3 linked regions of the Homo sapiens genome follow. The protein of the gene in region 1 interacts with the protein of each later gene in a pairwise test. Each region holds a gene or a part of one and is shown on either strand. Other genes may lie near its edges. The genes, in order: CFAP53, TBC1D21 and PIBF1.

The links.
Region 2: the proteins of CFAP53 (region 1) and TBC1D21 interact in binary tests that used the Homo sapiens proteins (3 or more experiments, as listed by UniProt).
Region 3: the proteins of CFAP53 (region 1) and PIBF1 interact in a two-hybrid assay, tested with the Homo sapiens proteins (one large-scale study listed by BioGRID).

What each region holds. Positions count from the first base shown.
Region 1 is NC_000018.10:50,245,991-50,249,645, reverse strand, and holds part of CFAP53 (cilia- and flagella-associated protein 53), read left to right. Parts: intron 1-3,655. UniProt on the Homo sapiens protein: Microtubule inner protein (MIP) part of the dynein-decorated doublet microtubules (DMTs) in cilia axoneme, which is required for motile cilia beating.
Region 2 is NC_000015.10:73,886,637-73,889,867, forward strand, and holds the end of TBC1D21 (TBC1 domain family member 21), read left to right. Parts: intron 1-983; coding exon 984-1,100; intron 1,101-1,793; coding exon 1,794-1,877; intron 1,878-2,147; coding exon of another isoform or gene 2,148-2,369; exon of another isoform or gene 2,370-2,432; coding exon 2,433-2,465; 3' UTR 2,466-2,578; downstream 2,579-3,231. UniProt on the Homo sapiens protein: Acts as a GTPase-activating protein for Rab family protein(s). Essential for the establishment of male fertility, and is required for both the production of normal sperm number and sperm function.
Region 3 is NC_000013.11:72,785,001-72,788,655, reverse strand, and holds part of PIBF1 (progesterone-induced-blocking factor 1), read right to left. Parts: intron 1-3,655.

The sequences.
Region 1 (3,655 bases):
AATCATATAGTGTGTAATCTTTTCAGATAGCCTTTTTCACTTAGCATAACCCTCAGGAGATTTGTCCAACTTTTTGGATCTATCAATAGTTGTTTCTTTTTCTTTTTCTTTTTTTTTAATTTTTTTTTTTGAGACAGTCTTGCCCTGTCACTCAGGCTGGAGTGCAGTGGTGTGGTCTCAGCTCCCTGCAGCCTCAACTTCCCAGGCTCAACTGATACTTCAGCCTCAACCTCCTGAGTAGTTGGGATTACAGGCACAAGCCACCATGCTCAGCTAGTTTTCTTATTTTTTGTAGAGATGGGGTCTCACTATGCTGCCCAGGCTGGTCTTGAACTCCTGGGCTCAAGTAATCCTCCTGCCTTGGCCTCCCAAAGTGTTGTGTTTACAGGCATGAGCCACTGCACCCAGCCTTCTTTTTATTCTTTTTTTTTTTTTTTTTTTTGAGATAGAATTTTGCTCTTGTTGCCCAGGCTGGAGTGCAGTGGCGTGATCTCGGCTCACTGCAACCTCCGCCTCATGGGTTCAAGCGCTTTTCCTGTCTCAGCCTCCCGAGTAGCTGGGATTACAGGCGGGTGCCACTGCGTCTGGCTAATTTTTGTGTTTTTAGTAGAGACAGCGTTTCGCCACGTTGGCCAGGCTGGTCTCAAACTCCTGACCTCAGGTAATCAACCTGCCTCGGCCTCCCAATTTATTCTTGAGTAGTGTTCATGGTATAGATTTACCACAGTTTGTTTAGCCATTTACCTGTTGAAGGACATTTGAGTTGTTTCCAGGTTATGGCTATTATGAGTAAAGCTGCTATAATCATTTGAGTACAGGTTTTTCTGTGAACACATTCTCACTTTTTTTTTTTTTTTTTTTTAGGCGGAGTCTTGCTCTGTCACCCAGGCTGGAGTGCAGTGGCATGGTCTCGGCTCACTGTAACCTCCACCTCCCGGGTTCAAGTGATTCTCCTGCCACAGCCCCCTGAGTAGCTAGGATTACAGGTGTGTGCCACCATGCCTGGCTAATTTTTTCTATTTTTAGTAGAGATGGGATATCACCATGTTGGCCAGGCTGGTCTCAAACTCCCAACCTCAAGTGACCCACCCACCTTAGCCTCCCAAAGTGCTTGGATTACAGGCATGAGCCACCACACCTGGCACAAATCATCATTTCTATGAGATAAATGCCTAGAAGAGCAATTGCTATGTCATATAGTAATTGCATGTTTAGTTTTTTAAAGAAACTGCTAAACTGTTTTTCAGAGTAGCCATACCATGTTACATTCCCACCAGCAATACATGAGCAATCCAGTTTCTCCACATCCTCACCAGCATTTGGTGCTATCACTATTGTTCACTTTTAACCATTCTGATAGATGTGTAGTAACATCTCATTGTGGTTTAATTTACATTTCCCTAATGGCTAATGATTTTGAACAACTTTTTATGAGCCTGTTTTCTATCTGTATGTCTTCTTCAATGAAATGTCTCTTCATGTCTTTTGCCCATTTTCTGTTTTTTTTTTTTTTTTTAATTTTTGTTGAGCCAGTATCTCACTCTGTCACTTAGGCTGGAGTACAGTGGCATGATCATAGCTCACTGCAGCCTCCAACTCCTGGTTTTTGTCCATTATCTAATTGACTTGCTTATTTGATTTCTTTTTCCTGTTGAGTTTTTTGTTCACATTTAAATCATTTTTTTAACAGCTTCAAGAGAGAATTCACATAACATCCAGTTCCCCAGTTTAAACCATACAATTCAGTGGATTTTACTGTTTTCACAGATATGTGCAGCTGTCATCACATTTTATTTTAGAACATTTTCACTATCCTGCTATCCCTTCTTCCCCACCTCCTGCCTCCAGTCCTAAGCAGCCACTTATCAACTTTGTGTCTCTATAGATTTCCCCATTCTGGACTTTGATATGAATGGAATCACATGTTATGTGACCTGTTGACTGTCTTCTTTCACTTAGCATAATGTTTTCAAGATTTATCCACATTGTAGCATGAATCACTATTTTATTTGTTTATGTGGCTGAATGATATTCCATTGTATGGATATGCCACATTTTGTTTATGCATTATGTCAGTTGATGGACATTTGGGTTATTTCCACTTTTTGGCTATCATGAATAATGCTACTATGAACATTCATGTACACATTTTTGTGTGGACATATGTTTTTATTTTTCTTTGGGGCATGTATCTAGAAGTAGTACTACTGGGCCATACGGTAACTCTGTGTTGAAGTTTTGAGGAACTGCCAAACTGTTTTCCAAAGTGGCTGAACCATTTTACATTCCCACCAGCAGTGTATGAGGGTTTTGATTTATCCACATGCTCACCAACACTTGTTATTGTCTGTTTTTTTTATTTTACCCAGCCTAATGCATCTGAATTGGTATCTCATTATGGTTTTTATTTGTATTTCCCTAGTGACTAATGATATTGAGCCTCTTTTCCTGTGCTTATGGTCATTTGTAGATCTTCCTTGGAGAAGTCTATTTGAAGGCTATTCTCTATTCTTAGAGAAGTCTATTCAAGTCCTTTGCCCATATTTTAGTTGGGTTATTGGTCCTTTTATTATTGAATTGTAAGAGTTCTTTTTTTTTTTTTTAAATCTCACTCTTGTCGCCCAGGCTGGAGTGCAATGGTGCAATCTCATCTCACTGCAACCTCCACCTCCCAGGTTCAAGCGATTCTCCTGCCTCAGCCTTCTGAGTTGCTGGGATTACAGGTGCCTGCCACCACGCCTGGCTAATTTTTTTGTATTTTTAGTAGAGACGGGGTTTCACCATGTTGGCCAGGCTGGTCTTGAACTCCTGACCTTAGGCGATCCACCCACCTCAGCCTCCCAAAGTGCTGGGATTACAGGCGTGAGCCACCACGCCTGGCCAAGAGTTCTTTATATTTTCTAGATTCAAGTCTCTTACCAGATAAATGACTTGCAATTATTTTCTTTCATTCTATAGGTTGTCTTTTTACTTTTTTGATGATGTCCTTTGAATCACAAAAGTTTTAAATTTTGACAAAGTTCAATTTAGCTATATTTTCTTTTGTTGCTTATGCTTTAGGGGTCCTATCTAAAAAATGGTTACCTACTCTAGGATCACAAAGATGTACTTCTTTGTTTTCTTGTTAGAGTGTTATAATTTTAGCTTTTACATTTAGGCTTTTGATCCATTTTAAGTTTTGTATATGGCATGAGATAAGGATCCTAATTCATTATTCCTCATGTGGATATCCAGTTATTCCAGCATCATTTGTTGAAATAATTCTCTAATTGTTCCCCTATTGAATTGTCTTATCACCCTTGTCAAAAATCAATTACAGTAAAGTGAAGGTTTATTTCTGGACACTCAGTTCTATTCCATCAATCTATATCTCTATCCTTAGTCCAGTATAACAAATCTATATGTCTTGATTACCGTAGCTTTGTAGTAAGTTTGAAATCAGAAAATGTAAATCCTGGCCTGGTGCAGTGGCTCACGCCTGTAATCCCAGCACTTTGGGAGGCTGAGGCAGGAGGATCACCTGAGGTCAGGAGTTTGAGACCAGCCTGACCAACATGGTGAAACCCCGTCTCTACCAAAAATACAAAAATTAGCCAGGCATGGTGGCCCATGCCTGTAATCCCAGCTACTTGGGAGGCTGAGGCAGGAGAATCGC
Region 2 (3,231 bases), on another chromosome or scaffold:
CAGGCTGGGCTCCACCCATCAGGCAGAGTGGAAGCTGCAAGTCTTCCTTGCCTCCCCCTTTCTTCCTGGCTTGGATGGAGTTCAGTATCTCGGGGTTTTGTTAGGTCAGCAACCCTGCTCCCACCTTGCTGGAGGAAGCTGGAGCATCACTTTGTCCATATGTTCATTTAACACAAAGGCCCCACTGACTGTGCCTTCTGCTAGCAGTTGACACAGGAGGGCCCTATGGCCTGTGCAGTGGGAGCCTGGGCCTGCAGCTCCACTTCCCCGCTGCCCTGCCCAGGTGGCCTCCCCACGCTTTCACTTCCCCAGCTGTCCCCCCAACCCTGGCCTTCCCCTTCCCCAGAGTGCTGCTCCTGTGGAACTCTCTCACAGAAGGTGGGTCCCTAAGGACACCTGTAGTCCTGTGACCACAATCCTCAGGGCCATCAGCAGATGAACCCTCTGAGGAATGCCACCCCCACCCATCAATGCCCTGCCCATGGCCACCGCTGCCTGCAGTGTCCAGCCCAACCATCCACCTGGCATGTAGGGCCCCACAGATCTATTCCCACCTGCCTCTTGGCTGGCTGGTCTCCATGCCCAAGTCCATGACCACACCCAGGCCTTTGGTGACATCCTTGGGTCATTTAATTCCCATCAACCCTTGCTTGCCAAAACCCCACTCAAATTCGACAGTTTCCTAGTGTCTTCCCACCCCTCATTGCCTCCCTCCCCTTCCTCTATCTAATGAATTCCCTGAAGCCTCTATCTCTGAAACCCCCAGGAGACAGCACAATGCCTAGAACCAGGAGTACCTGTGAGCACATGCCTGAGTGAGTGGATGAGTGAGTGAGTGAATGAAGGAATGATTGAATGAGCAAGTCAGCAGCAAGGCCCAGGAATGGCTGACTCCAGGCACGTGGTTGGTGGGTACCTCACCATCCTCAGGGCATCTGCAGTCTCAGACCACAGGGCCCAGACTGAGACGTCCTGACCCACAGGTTCTGCTGACGGGGAAGCCCTGCAGGAACTTCCAGGTGCTGGTGGCCTACAGCATGCTGCAGATGGTGCGGGAGCAGGTGCTGCAGGAAAGCATGGGCGGGGATGACATCCTCCTGGTGAGAGCACCCTCGGGCAAGCTACCACCCCTGCTCCTGGAGGCCCTGACACCCCACCCCACCCCAGCTGAAAGACCGGGGTTCATGGGGTGCTGGGCACCAGTGCCACCTTTTCCCCCCAGACAGAAAGGGCAATGAGATCTAAGGTACGGATTACCGTGCCAAGGGCTTTTAATAGAGCTTGTTTAAGCCTCACCACAAGCTTGACACAGGGAGGCTATAACCATCATCATCACCCCTAGTTAACACATGAGGAAATGGAGGCCTTGAACACTCCCTAACTATTAAGCTCTACCATCTCGCAGTTAACCCTGTGGCCCTAGGATATTGCTGAAACAGAAGGACCTAGAGTTTTCCACCATTTTAAAAAAGCTACTGAAGTCTTTGTTGGAAGAAACAAATCTTAGGTGACACCCTAATTATAAACCAAGTCCTCCTTCAAAGCCCCTAAGACACTTGGTGGAGCCCCAGGACTCCTAGAGCCTAACATGAAAGCTAACATTTACCATTGCCCCAAAATATCAAATTTTAGGCATTGAGCCAAGCAGGCTGGGGAGAGGTCAGGTGGTCCCCAGCGACTGCTGTGAGCAGCATCCTTCTTCCCTGGGTGCTGCAGGCAGCTGCATGTGCCCAAGAGTGCTGGGAGATGTTTGCCCCAGCCCCACCCACAACTGCTCCCACACTCCCATGCAGGCCTGCAACAACCTCATCGACCTTGATGCTGATGAGCTGATCTCTGCCGCCTGCGTGGTTTATGCTGAGCTCATCCAGAAGGATGTAAGTTGCCCCAATGATGTGTCCTCCTCCTCCTCTTCCTCCTCCTCCTCTTCCTCCTCCTCCTCCTCTTCCTCCTCCTCCTCCTCCTCCTCTTCTTCCTCCTCCTCCTCTTCTTCCTCCTCCTCTTCTTCTTCCTCCTCCTCTTCTTCCTCCTCCTCTTCCTCCTCCTCCTCTTCCTCCTCGTACTCCTCCTCTTCTTCCTTCTCCTCCTCCTCTTCTTCCTCCTCCTCCTCCTCCTCATCAGAGCCTATCCTGATCTCCCAAACGCAGCCCATGGCAGGTGCATTCAACTTCAGAGACACAGACTGTGCCACGTTCTCTACCACTGACCCATGCATGTTGCTCCTCATGGTCTTCTCGTTGTTTGCACATGTAGCTCCTTCCTCCCTGAGCAGGCTGTACTACTTGAGAGCAGGGCCCTCATCCCCCATTCCCTGTGTCCATCCCAGTGGGTCTGGGCACCCAGAGGCTCAGGAGAATGTCGCTGCTTAGAAGAACCGAAGAATGAAAGGGACAGACCAATGTCTGTGCACCTCCCACCTGCCTCCTCCCTAGGTTCCTCAGACATTAAAGGATTTCTTCCTCTGAGGACACCAAAGCCCGCAGTGGACTGATGCCTTCGATGGGCAGGATGAAGGCCAGGGGCACTGGAGTGAGGGAGTAGATAAAACAGCTGCAATATAAACAGTCCTCTGGAATAATGGTTTGTGGTGGATGCTATGTCTTTGACCTTAGGGGCTGGGACGCACATGAGGGCTGAGACAGGGTCGTACGATAGGAAGAGAGGCTGGCTGGCTGAGAGACACATTCTGAGACTAGGGAGGGTGCTTGCTGGAAGAGACTGGGTCAGTGGCTCCTCCTTGATGGAGGGTTTTCCAAGGCTGCGGTGGATCCATATCTGGATACAAATGGTTAGAGTAGAACCAGCTCTGAAAGGCTTCCAGACCCCTGTGGAGGACAAAACTGAGCACATTTAATAAGGATTAGTTCATCTGGACTTAGGTCCTGAGAGGAAGGCTGGTCCTGGGGCTCTGCCCCCACCCCCACTGCTCCCCTGAGTCCTGTCACATCAATCACACAATTAAGTCATTTTTTCCAGAGATTTCCTGCTAGTCTGTGGAAGGGGCTGGCCTGGAAGAACTATCTGATGAGCAGGCAATTCCCTTCCTGGTTTCAAAGCCTCCCTCATAATTGTGCCTTCATTTATCAGCCTGCAAATGTGTCCTCAAGCTACATTTTATTTTCCAGTCTTGATCAATCTTTCTTGAGAATGCACTCTTTGCCCTTGGCCAGGCAGTCAGTTGCTCTGTGAGGAAAAGGTGCATCACACCTGCTCCCCCAGGCTGTGCCACAG
Region 3 (3,655 bases), on another chromosome or scaffold:
TTCTGGAAGAACTCTTTAAAGAGGACTGACTCATTTGGCACATGCCCCCTTTTCCACTATCCTTCTCCTTATTACCACCTTTTACATGTACACAATACTGGAGGCAGATAAGCTATCTTATGATTTCAGGTGAAAAGCATATGTTGAAAATAGCTAAGGTTAAAAGGAGCCTGGGTTCCTAATGCGATCAAGGAGTAATCACTTGAGGTCTACTAAAATACCTATTTTTGGATTTTTGTTATACCAAAGAAACAAAATCCTTCTCTTGCTTAAGCCATGGTTTCCAGGTCTCTGTTACCAGAAACCACCATTTTTCAAGTCTCTGGTATTAACTGCTGAACTTAATCCTTGAAACCCTGGGCAGTTGGTTCAATCTCTTTCCAAAATAGAAATACCTATAATATTTATTAACAGTTGACTATTCAGGACTACTTAAATGCTTCCAATGACAGGAAGCTCAGAAACTTAAGATCAGGCCATTTCAATGTTAATAGCAATAACAGGCTTACACTGAGCAGAAATCTACCTTTCCTGTGACTTCCAACCATTATCATGGAGCTATAGTCTAGTGAGGAAAATTTATTTTTCATAACGTTAGCATACGATGCTCAATAAGCTTTGGAGAATGAATGACCAATTAAAAATACCTTTCTTTCAAGACCTAGGCTTTAAGTTTCCTGCCCAGGCTAAAAAGTGTATGGCATGGCTGGGTGCAGTGGCTTCACACCTGCACTTTGGGAGGCTGAAATGGGTGGATTGCTTGAGGCCAGGAGTTCGAGACCAGCCTGGCCAACATAGTGAAACCCCCATCTCTACCAAAAATACAAAACTTAGCTGGGCGTTGTGGCACGGGCCTACAGTCCCAGCTACTCGGGAGGCTGAGGCACAAGAATCGCTTGAACACAGGAAGTGAAGGTTGTAGTGAGCTGAGATCATGCCACTGCACTCCAGCCTGGGCAACAGAGTGAGACTCTGTCTCAAAAAAATTAAAAGAAAAAAAAAGTATATGGCAGCACTACCAAATTGAGCCCCTTTCTTCTTCACTTAAAAATTCAGAGAGGATGCTACCAGATAGATTTGAATCAAATACCGCGTGGTGTTACCAGATCCATCAGGCTTTTGGGGACCCTGTTCATTTCAAAATACCCCATGAACCTTCTTTGCTTTCTTCTAGAGCTGGACCTCATTGAAACACCAAGAAAACAAACAGCTCTAACACCAGGAGTCCAATATACTTCTGAGTCCTCACAATCGACCAGAGGGACAAAATTCAGTGGGGTGTACTAGCTTTAGAATCACTGCTCACAAGAAACAGTGTAGCACTTTGTTCATCTGGAGTGCTTCACACATAAAGACAAAAATAAAGACATAACTAAACATATAATAACACATACAAATAAAGGTGTTATTTTAAAACATATAAAGAAATATGTCACATACCAATTTATACATAAACAAATAAGTGAAAAAATATATATCATGTGTGTAGTGCTGTTTGCCTGTCTAAGGTGTTATTCCCAGGGCATGTAAGAAGTAAACATATATATACACACATACACACATTAACATACATATACATATTCTTTAATAAAAATATTTTTTAAATATTCTTTCATCAACTCCAGACTCACACTTTCTCACATTTTAACATCTCTAAAATTGGAATGCATTTTACAATCTAAGGCACTTAACAATTCAACTGGAAGTGTTTAACCTTAGCAATGTATGTAATGATGCATCTTACAACAGAGGTGCTTTAGGTTCAATAAATTATGGAAGGCTAACTCTACAATAGGTATTTCTTCATATATTTGAGAGCAAACATCTTATTCCTAAAGAGTCTTCAAGCAGAGAATCCTGAGTGCTCGTATGATAGAGAAAAAAACTCTACTAATATACAGCAGGGCAGCTATTTTGGAGATAACCTGGCAGTACACTTAGTTAAATGAAGGAGACATTTATATATGTCAAAGACATGCTCACAGAGGTCCAGAAGAGAAATGTCTAATGCTGCATGTGTTGCAAGGAGCTGGAGGCAATCTGGATGCCTAGCAATGTAGGAGTAGAAAGACTGGTAGACGCACACAAAGAATTACATAAGAGTTGGAAGCAAAGGACTAGATGTATACAAAGTAATAGATAACTTCAAAAACAGTGCTGAGTAGGAAAAAAGAGATGAGAACTAAAACAAAGCATATAATTTACATTTCTGTAAAGTTAAAAGATACACATTCTCAAGAATACATGTAAACAAAACATTAAAATGTTTGCATTAAGAAATGGAATGAGCTATAGGAATGAAAAGAATAAATACATTAGAAAAACAGCAGCCTTTCAGGGATCAATGATGATTATGTGTCAAACTCAGGAACACGACTATTGCAATCTTCTACATTTTCAGTCAAACTAGAAAACCACAACAAAAACTACACTAAGCACCATGGAAGTAGAAAAATAATAATATTGTGCTGAGTAAGTATAGCTACAAATAAAATAATATGTAAATAATAAGTTTATTATTAGTATACACCAAGCATCTATGAGCTTACATACATTGATTAATCCTCCCGATAATTCCACGGAATAAATACTATTATCATTTTATAGGAAATCACGGAATAAAAACATTAAGGAATTTAGTAAGGCTGGAATTCAAAACCCAAACTGTGTGCATCTAGAACTGTAATTTGGATTTGTTACACTAGAGAGCCTGTCATGAATCAACCAACATTTCTATAATATAAAGCTTACACCTAAAAAGAAGCAAAGCCATTGACAACCAAGGACAATGCAAGTTGAAAACAAATAATACAAGAGGTGGCTGAACAAAATGTAAGTCTGGATATGGTATACAGGTGGCACTTAAAAAAATACTTGTTGACTGAGTGGGTGAATTAATGAATGGGAGATAACCTCAGGTTTCTTCAATGAGTTGCACTAAGGTCTGGAGAGGTGAAGGTAGATGGAGTTCATGTGAAATGCAAAAAGAGTAAGGGAATAGGGATGGGAAACCACTGGATGCATGGATAAACTACCAAGTGACCTAGACTAGGTAGGTGACTGTATAGGGTACCTAAAAGAAAGTGTTTGGAGCTTCACTTGTGTAGAGTATAGGCTTTAGACTTCCTAGGTTTGAATCCTATCTGGCTCTATCACTTTCATCTGAATGGCCTTGGGTATGCTATTAACCACCTAGTGGCTTTGTTTAATCAGAGCAAAATGGGGTTCAGTCATTCATTTAAGAAATAGCTGGGCACTTAATTTGTGTCAGGCACCGTTCTAAGTGCTGGAAATACAACCATGAATACAAAAACATCCCCGTCCTCATGGACCTCATAGTCTATTCACAGACAAATAACAAACAAATTCAGTCCGATGGCCATAAAAGGCACAGAAAATGAAAGGGATGAAACAGATAAGGATGCTATGTTAGTTGAAAACAACAACGGCTAATACGTCTTGTGTGCTTATTTTTTTTTCTCCCCTCAAAATTTGTATATTGAAACCTAATCACCAATGTGAGTAGCAGGAAGTTGGGGCCTTTGGGGTGATTAGGTTATAAGGGTAGAACCCTCACTGTTGGGATTGGTGCCCTTATAAAAGTGATCCCAGAGAGCTAGCTGGGCATGGTGGGGAGCACTTGTAATCCCAGCTA